3 linked regions of the Homo sapiens genome follow. The protein of the gene in region 1 interacts with the protein of each later gene in a pairwise test. Each region holds a gene or a part of one and is shown in the gene's direction. Other genes may lie near its edges.

Region 1 (3,746 bases):
GCACGGGAGCTTCAATGGACAGCGGCGGAGCACAGGCTTTGGCTTCCAAAGGTCTGAGCTCGATTCTTGCTCTGAAACTGGCTAGCCATGTGAGTTTGGACAAGGCCCTGCACCTCTTTGACCCTCCGCTTCCATAACCGTACACACAAACCTAACTCGCTGGACTGTTGTGAGGACCCATAAGGGAAGCATGTGACTCATGGAAGCAACAAAATATTAGCTCCCTTCTCACTCGCCCCTCTCACCTCTGCTGGAATATCCCCACCCGCACCCACCACCATTAAGGAAAACCTACAATTTTGCAAGAAGCCTTTGTGTCTCATTTGCTGTGGTTAGAAAATTCCACTGCAAGTGGTGAGGAAATTTCCTACCTGGAGCTACCCCTTGGGACTCCCAACCTTTTTGGAGCTCCCAACCTTTTCCTCTTCCCCCTCTACCTCCCCTTTTCTCTACACCCCCCACCCCCACCCCCACCGCCGCCTTTTCCCAGCTCACTCTGTCGCCCAGACTGGAGTGCAGTGGCTTGATTTCGGCTCACTGCAACCTCCACCTCCTGGGCTCAAGCAATTCTCCCATCTCAGGCTCCCAGGTAGCTGGGACTACAGGCGCATGCCAACACGCCCGGCTAATTTTTGTTTGTTTTTGCAGAGACGGGGTTTCACCATGTCGCCCAGGCTGGTCTCAAATTCCTGGGTTCAAGAGATCCTCCCACCTGGGCCTCCCAAAGTGCTGGGATCACAGGTGTGAACCACTGCGCCCGGCCCTGGGAGATTTCTTAGCTGTGACCCCTGCACCACATTCCAAAGCCCTCTGGGCCTCCACTTCTTCATCTGCGAAATGCAGGACAATAACAGTATCTTCCTAGCAGGTCAGTGTTAGAATTGATGGAGTTCACGCACCCGAAAGCCTGAGCAGAGAACTCGGCCTGAACTAAGCGCTTCATCCTCAGCTGCTAACTCTCAGGCAGACGTCGAGGCTGGAACCCTTAGAGCCTGGAGCTTTGTGGGAGACCCGCAGCGGCACCGGTTGAGCCGAGCTAAAGCCCAACATTCTTCCTACCTCCCGCGGCGAGCCACTCCCTAGGTGGCTATTATGCCTAAACACTGAGTAAACCGCGCGGCCCTCGGGCGGTCGTTTCCAGCGCCCGGCGCCGCCGCGTGGCGAGTCCTGACCACCGCCTCCTCTCCTTCCCGGGCCCGAGGACACCCCGGGGGCGCGGCGCAGGATCTGGGAACGCACGCTTGGGAGGAAAAGGGCCGCGATGGACCGATCCCCCAGGAAAAAGAGGACTGAGCACATGAAGCGAATCCTTTGGGCAGAGCCCTCTCTACCTCCGCCTTAGCATCGCCCAAAAGAGAGGCCTGGACTAGGGCCGAGGAAGGCTGGCGATTAGACTCTGGGAAGAACTTCCGCTCAGCGAGTCAGCAGCGCGGTCTTAGCCCGAGGCCCAGGGGAGGCCAGGTCCCTTCGTCCCCGAGGGCCGGGACAGGGAGGGCGCGTTCTGCCCCGAGGCCTGGCGTGCCCTGCCTGGCTCAGGCTGGAAAGAAAGAAAGCGCGGAGTCAGCCTGGGCTGCGGCGGGCGCGGGGTGCGCGCCTCAGCACTTTCTGTTGTCTTTCCCGCGGGCTGGGGCCACAGCGGCGGCTGCGGGAGAGGCCTCGGCTCCCCAGCGGAGACCAGAGCCGACCGCAGCCTGCCTGCTGACTCAGCGACCCCACCCCCGAGGGAAAGGGTGCGGACAGGGGGACAAGGCCCAGGTATAAAGCTCGGCCCGCCCGGCCGCGCGCAGCCTCGCAGCCGGTCCATTTCCCTCGCGTGCCGCGCTCACCCACCCGGTGAATGCCCTCTGCTGGGGTGGGGAAGGGAGGGGAGCGCGGGAAGACTGCGAGCCCCTGGCAGCCGGGTCCAGAGCTAGGCCGGGTCCAGCCCCCGGGTTCTTCATCCGCTACCCAGGTTGGGCAGGCTGTGTGTGGCTCGAAACGGGGCTCTTGAGACGCTGAGCGCGTGGTGCCACCCTTCCTGTCCGCAGCGGCATGAGCAGCGCCCCCGCGCCGGGCCCGGCGCCCGCCAGCCTCACGCTCTGGGACGAGGAGGACTTCCAGGGCCGTCGCTGTCGGCTGCTAAGCGACTGTGCGAACGTCTGCGAGCGCGGAGGCCTGCCCAGGGTGCGCTCGGTCAAGGTGGAAAACGGCGTGTGAGTGATTGCCTGGCCGCGGCTGGGCTGGGTTGAGGGGCGCTGGGTTCCACCGGCCTAGGCTCAGAGCCTCAGCCCCCTGTCCTGTGAGCCCTGGAGAGACCTGCCAACATGGGAAACCCCATAGCCTCCCCAAAATTCCCCACCCATCGCAAGATAAATCATGGGAAACTGTGTATTTTTGTGCTAGCTAAAGAGACACAGGCGAGAAGCGACCCCTTGAGGGTCCCTATGGGACCCCACCGTGAAGGGGTTTCTAGTGTACTTACACCCTTCCCAGAGTTTTTCTCTGTGCAAAATTAGAAGGCTCTGCACTTGGCTTAACAAAAGAAACCCAATCCCTTTCCCTGGCCCCACCCTGGTCTCCCAGAGCCCAGCTTTTCCCACCCTGCCGCCCCCTACCCCTGCCCCAGCTGAGGTCCCAGTTTCTGCTGTGATATTCGGGAGGGGTCCTCCAATGTGTCCCCATGCAAAGGCCTAAACCCTTGAGGCAGGAGCACTGGGTCGGGAGATCTTCATAACCAGGAAAACTCTTTCCCAACCTGGGGTCCTTGAGGGGGAAGCCTGGGCGCCTCAAACCCCAGAAAGCAGCAGGTTTTGGACCTTTAGTTCCGAGAGGGGCTGGATTGCCATACAATGGGGGTGTCAGGGGAAGGGTTTGGGGTTGGAGAAAAACATTGTGCTTCTCAGTCTTTTCAATCATGGCCGGCAAGGGGGAGGGCAGAGAGGGTGCGGCTGGGGCAGATACCTCCCAGCTCTTCTCCTTTTCCAGTTGGGTGGCCTTTGAGTACCCCGACTTCCAGGGACAGCAGTTCATTCTGGAGAAGGGAGACTATCCTCGCTGGAGCGCCTGGAGTGGCAGCAGCAGCCACAACAGCAACCAGCTGCTGTCCTTCCGGCCAGTGCTCTGCGCGGTGAGCACAGCCCACTTCTCCTCCCCTGCCTCCTAGCTCCAGGCCCTGGCCTCACCATGGCACCTAGAAAGGCTGTTCAAGCCCTGCATGGGGTGTGTGTAAACAAACTCCGAGATGGGTGGTAGTAGCATTATTTCTCAGAATCAGAAGGGTGTCTCCAAGAAAGTTGGGATTGTGGGCGTAGGCCCGGAGCCCAGAAATCATCACCACGGACAGCGCTGAGGCCATCCCAGTCCTGAGTGCCCAGGGTTCCCCCACATTCCATCGTCCACACGTGTGAGTGAGTGCCTCTGTCGTCACACAGCCATGTGAGGTCGGGTTGACTGCTGTTAGCCCCATACACAGGTGTGGAAATGGGGCTCAAAGGGACAAAGTGGCTTGCCCAGGGTCACTGAAAAGAGTCAGTCTCAGTGTGTTTGTGTGTGTGTTATTGTGTGTGTGAGGGTGTTGTTAATGAATCAAATACACCGAAAGAGAGGACCTCATTTTCCATTTGTGCCGACCTGGTTACTAGTAGGGCTGGGAAGTGGAGAGCAGAGGACCCAGCCCAGGCCAGCCCAATTCTTCTGTTCCAAGAGGCTGAAGAACCCTGCAGTGGGAAGGCCGGAGCCAAGATGCAATCAGTATTGATGCCCTGACA
Region 2 (3,746 bases), on another chromosome or scaffold:
GATGTTGCTTTTACAAAACAGAATTGAATAAGAAGTGAATTTCTTCTTTCCAGAGGCCAGGCGCGGTGGCTCACGCCTGTAATCCCAGCACTTCGGGAGGCCGAGGTGAGCGGATCTTGAGGTCAGGAGATTGAGACCATCCTGGCCAACACGGTAAAATCCCATATCTACTAAAAATACAAAAATTAGCCAGGCACGGTGGCATGAGCCTGTAGTCCCAGCTACTCAGGAGGCTGAGGCAGGAGAATGGCTTGAACCCGGGAAGTAGAGGTTGCAGTGAGCCGAGATCACACCACAGCACTCCAGCCTGGGCAATAGAGCAGGACTCTGTCTCAAAAAACAAAACAAAACAAAAAATTAAGAAATATGGTCTATATTGTAAGGCATTTTCTGTGGATCCAGGCCTGTTATGTAATTAGGACTGGGGTGGGAGAAGGACCGTCTTGTCTTATATTTAGACTTCTGATCTGATCACTAAATAAGTTACAGGTATTTTGATGTTGTCATGTTTAAAGTGTCATTTAAAATAAACAATTGAAATATTATCAATTTGGTAATCCCTTTTGTGGTTTTATATGTTTTATATATTCATTTTATAATACACTAAAAGCCTCACAAAATGGCAGTAGACTGCAGTTCCTAACCCCTGAGGGGCCGTGTTTCATGATGCTATTATACACATCTAAAACTAAAATAAATATTAATGAAAACGACGTTTTCCATATTAAGTGAAGAGAGTTAAAGGTACATATTTTATTTCTATAAAGTGACAAACACTTGATCGCTGTAAATGTGAATACAACTTTTATTTTTAAACCTTTCAAGGGAATTAGATCTATTTTCCTGCTGTTTCCAAGCCTTCGGTAACCCTCTGAGTGTGTTTGTATTCACTAGGAAGGAACATTTCTGTGGAATTAATCAAATGGAGAATTCAATGTTCCTTTTAGATAATTTTGGCCATGTTCCATTGCGAACTTTCTAGTCTGCATTTCATCTCTTTCCTGGGAAAAGACCCACATATTCCAAATCCTCTGCCTTTTCTCTACTTGTTAGTGAAGAACAATATAGCAAAACTGCTATGTACAGAATTAATAATCATGTGCATTCAGCAAGGCTCTCTGCTGGGAATTTCATCACTAGAATAAGGCAAAACGCATGAGAATAAGAGTTCAAATGTAGTCAGTACAAACTAGTATCAAAAACTCTGTTGTATTATCGTTAATTGCTCCTCTGATTTTGCTAAAATTAAAAGAAAAATTATGTGGGGGGAGAATTAGAAAATATTCAAAGCTCCTAATATATTCCAGTAAACCCTGAGATGACAAATCTCATTTTCCAAGGAAAAGCAGTGCTAATTTTTTTTTGTAACAACAAAGAATTCATGTTCAATGCCTAATTAAAACCTGGAAATCTATATGCGTTGTTTCTTTTTTTTTTTTTTTTTTTTTTTTTTTTTTTTTTTTTTGAGACGGAGTCTGGCTCTGTCGCCCAGGCTGGAGTGCAGTGGCACAATCTCGGCTCACTGCAAGCTCCGCCTCCCGGGTTCACGCCATTCTTCTGCCTCAGCCTCCCGAGTAGCTGGGACTACAGGCTGTGCATTGTTTCTTAATGGCTTTCCAAATTTACAAAACAATCAGAGTCCTTATCTATCACTGGCTTTATGTTTCATATCAGCTTTTTTATTCATCTTACAGAATGCATTTTGCCTTGCAGATGAATTCTAGCTATTTTATCCATAGCTATAATGGAATAGCTGCTGCTATTATTTATGCTCTATACATGTTACTTTGGCCCTAAAGCCTGAAGGAACCCATTGTTGTTTTCTACCACTGATGATTTTATCTGCACTTCTGCATCTGGGCAATTGTTCACAATAGTCACAAAGACCTAGCACTTGGTCTGAGAATCCTACCTGCTGAGGAGTTTTATTTGGCCAGTTTGGTAAAGGACATTTAAATGAAGATATCTAAAGCTAGCAGAAAACAGAGATTTTGGAGTCATCAGCACATTTGGGATGGTGGAAGCCACAGCCAAGGAGGGGATGTAGTACACGAAGACCTCAGGGTAAATGTGCAGAGCCCTTATTAGGTATTCAGTAAAGACTTGAGGAGTAAAAGAATGAACTAGAAAATGACAATGTACTGATTATTAATTTATATTTGAGTAAAAAAGACTGTTATTTCCATCAAAATCTGCCTCTAGAATTTTCCAGCAAGAAAGTAAGTGATGATAGTTATTAAAAGCCCTAGCAACAGTTTATATCCTTGAGGTAAAACCATCCTGTTTCAACAGATACCATATTCTCATTGAATTCCACATTAGCTTATGATAAACACAAGATGTTTTTCATAATCTAGATGCAGGTTTTATGCATTTTTTTTTAGCAAAACATACAGGGAACTGCCAAGATGGGAGAGTAATCTTTCCTAAATCACTCCAAATGTCACCATGACTATAAGCATACTTTCCTAAATTGGGGGATTTTTGCTTAAGAAAATATAAGTTCATTCAAATGCTTCACTCACATTATATTAAGGTTTCATCATTTATCCTATAAACAAAATTCTGCTTTTATATACATTAATCACTTTGTCATTCATAGGATCAAACCAAAATGACAACTGCTCACTTTTACTGTCAATACTGCACAGCATCACTTCTTGGGAAGAAATATGTACTAAAGGATGACAGTCCATACTGTGTTACATGTTATGATCGTGTATTTTCTAACTATTGCGAGGAATGCAAAAAACCAATTGAATCTGATTCTAAGGTAAGTCTCACCTCAATTTACAGAATTACTGCCTATGAACAGCAAACAAGTGGGTTGGAGTGCCTCTTTTCATTTAGTGTTGACTTTCAACACTATTTCTCTGCTACTGGATATATAAGGATCTTAAAAGTTACCAGCAGTCAAGCTCCAGCCACTACACTTAGCACTATGAAATACAACATATGCTTAATCCTCACATGATCTTCTAAGGTAGCTGAGAATGCTAAAGATTAAAGGGGTTAAGCTATTTGTCCAAAGTTACACAGCTAGAATTTTCCTGCTGTTTCCAAGCTCTCAGTAACCTTCTGGGTGTGTTTGTTATTTCTGGAATGACAAGGGTATAAATAAATGCATAAAGAATTGAAGTTGAAAGGATTCAAAATCTGTTTTCTGATGTAAAATCAGCTTCATTTCTTACTAAACCCTATTGATACCTCTCACACCTACCACCCCTTCCTCCGACATGCTTATTCTTTCTTTCTTTCTTTCTTTCTTCTTTTCTTCCTTCCATCCTCCGATTATTTTCCTCTCTCTTTCTCTCTCTCTCTCTCTCTCTCTCTGTCTCTTTCTTCCCTCTTTCTGCCTTTGTTTTACTTAGGTGATGTTATTTTTTGTCTGTTTAGTTACATCTCAAAGAGTAATAGAACATTGCACCCTAAAATTTTTAAAAATCATTCCATGAAAAACCTCTATTATAGTTTATAAAAAGAATATAGGCAAATTTTGAAGACACAGCAGAGAATGTATTTGTTTTTTCCCAGCTGCCTTAAGTGACCCACCAAGAAAGCCCTGGGCTCTAGCTCTTAATTACCCCAGAGAGTCTCCTCTCTATGGGTAACAGTTTCAGTAACAACTTTCCCTCACGCTACTAGCACAACCTACTGACATGAGAGTCCCAGGAGTGTTCAGTTTTGTTTCATAAAATGGCCTGTATTGTCACAACCACATTTAATTAACTTTTATTTACTGTCTC
Region 3 (3,746 bases), on another chromosome or scaffold:
GTAGGGATGTGCAGGGACGGGGCAGAGCCCAAGTGACTTAGGGAAGAGAGCCACCCCACCCCCCGCAGGGGCCCTGGGGAAGGAAAGTCCCTTGTAAGGCGCGCCGGCTGCAGGCCAAGCAGTCCCGCGCCAGACACTGCTCAGCCTTTCCTCGCTCTAGGGCGCGTTTCCTGCAGCGCCAACGCGAGGCTGCGGGGCTGGGAGCATCCTTGCCCACCCCACTGCCCAGCGACCCACCCTGGAGCCCGGGTTTCGCGTCTGATCAGCCGAACCCGGGGGCCTAGTGGGGGCATTCCAACGGGCGGGGCGGGGTGGGGCAGGCGCGCCCTCGAAGCCCCACCCCACGGCCCCTCCCCGCAGGAGGCCCGCCCTCTGGCCCCGCCCTCCTCCCGCATTTAAAGGGCTCGCTCTCTCCGCAGCGCAACCTCTGCTCCCTGCCTCGCCTCCCGCGCGCCTAGGTGCCTGCGACTTTAATTAAAGGGCCGTCCCCTCGCCGAGGCTGCAGCACCGCCCCCCCGGCTTCTCGCGCCTCAAAATGAGTAGCTCCCACTCTCGGGCGGGCCAGAGCGCAGCAGGCGCGGCTCCGGGCGGCGGCGTCGACACGCGGGACGCCGAGATGCCGGCCACCGAGAAGGACCTGGCGGAGGACGCGCCGTGGAAGAAGATCCAGCAGAACACTTTCACGCGCTGGTGCAACGAGCACCTGAAGTGCGTGAGCAAGCGCATCGCCAACCTGCAGACGGACCTGAGCGACGGGCTGCGGCTTATCGCGCTGTTGGAGGTGCTCAGCCAGAAGAAGATGCACCGCAAGCACAACCAGCGGCCCACTTTCCGCCAAATGCAGCTTGAGAACGTGTCGGTGGCGCTCGAGTTCCTGGACCGCGAGAGCATCAAACTGGTGTCCATCGGTGAGGGACGCCCCGAAGCGCCGGGCGGGCGGGGGCGGGGACTCCGTGCGTCCTTCCATCTCCCCGGGCGGACCCCTCCAAACCACCCCCTTCCGGGCCGCAGCGCAACTCCCGAGGCCTCCGGCTGCTCTGCTCCACGCGGGCCTGCAGAACAAAGGCGCGCGGGCTGGCTGGCTGGCCGGCCGGGCGTGCGAACCGCTACGCGCCCCCGCCCGCTGCGCCCCGGCTGGCCGGCGCCCAGGCTGAACTCACATCCTCCGCAGGCCGCGCCTCCGCGGCTGTGCTCGCGGTGGGAGTGGGCCTGGGGGGTCGGGCACTGGGCAGGCTCCTGGCCCTGCGCCCCGTCCCCGAGGAGGAGGAGGCCCGGGCTCTCCCCCCACAGCTGTTTAGAGAGGGCCCTCTGGCCTTCAGAGGCCCGTTGGTTCTGAAGTGTGGGTTGGAGCTCGTGCGTCCCATTGTCTGGGGCTCTGGGCTCTTTGTGTCCCTGGAGGATGGGTCGCCCATCGGAGATGGCTCCAACCACCAGTTTAGATCTACCCCCCCACACACACACAGGCAACCTGGGGGCCAGAAAGAAGCATAGTTAGCAAAACTGCACCCGGGGTGAGTTGGGCGTGGTTGACTGAGAGACCTGGCTTGTAGACTACTTGGACGCCAACTTTTCTCTTCATCTTGGGCCAAACTCTTGCTTCCATGTAGGCCTTGCTTTTCTGCGTGTAGCACGCAGGAGTTGGTTGGTAGATGCTCCAGCGTGCATTGTGCCAGCCCAGTGTCTGTGTCACTGGACTGGAGAGGCTGGCATTGACCAGGCCTGCTGCAGCAGCCCAATTCGTTCTCAAGATAGGGGCTGCATGAGAGGGCAGGCCCCAGAATGGGTGACTCGGGGGTGATGTGGAACAGGGAGAGGAGAGGGATGATGAGTCTTCTCTTCTTCAGAATTGAGAGGCCTTCCAGTTACCCTGCAGCCCTGGAATGGCCCTTGCTGAACCCAAGAAAGTGAGGGACCAAGACTTGGGTTCCCCCAGCCACTCAGAGGGCAGATCCCAAGAACCAAAGTTCTTTCTTTGGAATGCCAGTTGAGGCGAGGGGCAGGCCCACCCCCACAAGTCCCAGCCTCAGTCTAGCCAAGCTGAGTCATCTCAGTCCTGGATGGTAGGGGGGGCGACCGGATGTGGGGAGGCGGGCCACACCCCAGCTCTTTAGGGGGGGTCTCCTCCCTCCTCCCAGCTCCCCTCCTCCTTGTGAGCTGGCTGGAGCAGGCCTAGTTCCCAGAGCTTTGCCATATAAGGCAAAAAAATGTTGGAAAGCAGCAGTGATTAGGGGAGGGAGGGGTTGGCTGGCCCAGGGGCTGGGGAAAGGGGGGTGGGATGGGGCGGGGCCATCCAGCCAGACAGTCTCCCAGCCCTGGGCCCTGGTCCTTCCCTCTCTCTTTTGGGAGGGGGATGGGGACGGAGTAGGCTGGCCTAACATGGACCTGGTGGGCCTGGTTGCTCCCCGTGTGGGGGTCGTTGAGGGGTCTGAGGCTGGACTGGGGTGGGGGCCTGATGGGAAGCCCTGGCTGGCCTTGTTCCCTGGCCCTGCACCCTTGGTCCTCTCCGAGTCCCCCTCCCTGCTGCCATTTGGGGAGAGTGAAAGGCAGCCTCGTGGGGCCAGGACCAACCTGGGAACTGGGGAGGCCACTCTGAGCGGCTCACCTGGCCCTCCAGGTGCTGCCTGCTGGGCTGGGAAGCAGCTGCCATGGACAGCCCAGCCCCTCCTCATAGGCCCGCCCCCTAGTTGACTCACCAGAGAAGTATTTTGTCTGATTATGGGGGAGGCTGACAGGGCTTCTAAAGATGAGCCATCCTGCCTTGAGCCTGAGACCCAGAAGTAGCCTTGGGTGGGGCCCAGAGCCCAGCAGGGTTGCCATGGTGATGGGGGGTGTCAGGGACCCGCCCTAACCACTTCCCCTGTGGCGAGCCTGCCGAGGCCCAGAGGCCCGTTAGGTGGCAAGTGGGTCAGGCAGTGGGTGGCAAGGGGGTTCCCAGTGTCTCCTGCTGCCACCCCGGCATCTCCCGATGGGCCCCAGTGAGTCAGGGCCATGTGGCCCAACTGCTGGTTCCTTTGGGCTCTGGGCCCCTCCCCTGGCTAGGCCTGTGGCCTCCCAACTCCAAGCTTGAGTCTTCGAGGTGGTAGAGGAAGTGGGGGTGGTGGCGGGGGTCACAATCCCTCACCCAAAGGGCGTTTGCCCAACTCCCCCACTTCCCCTGCCTCACCCCACCCACCCTGGAACAACAGTTGTATTTCCCAACCACCCAGGGCCACCCACCTTCCTCTTCCTCAGCCCCAGCCCCACTCCAGGTCATGGGCCCTGGATTCTGGGCCAGCTGGAGTCAGCCTCCTCCTCCTGGTTCCCCATAGGCCCCTGAGGTGTGTGGCGGACCCCTGCTCTGGCAGCTGTGGACACTGTCCAGCTGTTCTCCAGAGCTGCCCATCTGCAGGCTGGGTCTGCCCTCTGCCCTTCCTCTGGGCCCAGGGCTTCTGGCAGTAATCATACCCTGCTGGCATCGTGTGTGTGTGTCTGTGTGTATCTGCCCTCACCCCAAAGTCTCCTTCACCTCTGAACACCCCCTGGGACCCTGGGCAGAGAGGGCCTCATCCACATCCTACCACTGGCCAAGAGGGGGTGTCTACCTCCTCCTTGGCCCCTGCTACCCCGTGCTGCCAGACCCTGACCCCAAAGCCTGGGATCGGCCCCTCCCGCACAGCCGTGTGCCCAGCGTGGCCACTCTTCTACTCACAGACAGCAAGGCCATCGTGGACGGGAACCTGAAGCTGATCCTGGGCCTCATCTGGACC

Evidence for each region.
Region 2: the proteins of CRYBA2 (region 1) and FHL5 interact in binary tests that used the Homo sapiens proteins (3 or more experiments, as listed by UniProt).
Region 3: the proteins of CRYBA2 (region 1) and FLNA interact in binary tests that used the Homo sapiens proteins (3 or more experiments, as listed by UniProt).

Annotation. Positions count from the first base shown.
Region 1 is NC_000002.12:218,991,462-218,995,207, reverse strand, and holds the start of CRYBA2 (beta-crystallin A2), read left to right. Parts: upstream 1-1,785; 5' UTR 1,786-2,031; coding exon 2,032-2,192; intron 2,193-2,964; coding exon 2,965-3,106; intron 3,107-3,746. UniProt on the Homo sapiens protein: Crystallins are the dominant structural components of the vertebrate eye lens.
Region 2 is NC_000006.12:96,601,000-96,604,745, forward strand, and holds part of FHL5 (four and a half LIM domains protein 5), read left to right. Parts: intron 1-53; exon of another isoform or gene 54-153; intron 154-2,602; 5' UTR 2,603-2,614; coding exon 2,615-2,773; intron 2,774-3,746. UniProt on the Homo sapiens protein: May be involved in the regulation of spermatogenesis. Stimulates CREM transcriptional activity in a phosphorylation-independent manner.
Region 3 is NC_000023.11:154,368,035-154,371,780, reverse strand, and holds part of FLNA (filamin-A), read left to right. Parts: intron 1-419; 5' UTR 420-535; coding exon 536-908; intron 909-3,690; coding exon 3,691-3,746. UniProt on the Homo sapiens protein: Promotes orthogonal branching of actin filaments and links actin filaments to membrane glycoproteins. Anchors various transmembrane proteins to the actin cytoskeleton and serves as a scaffold for a wide range of cytoplasmic signaling proteins.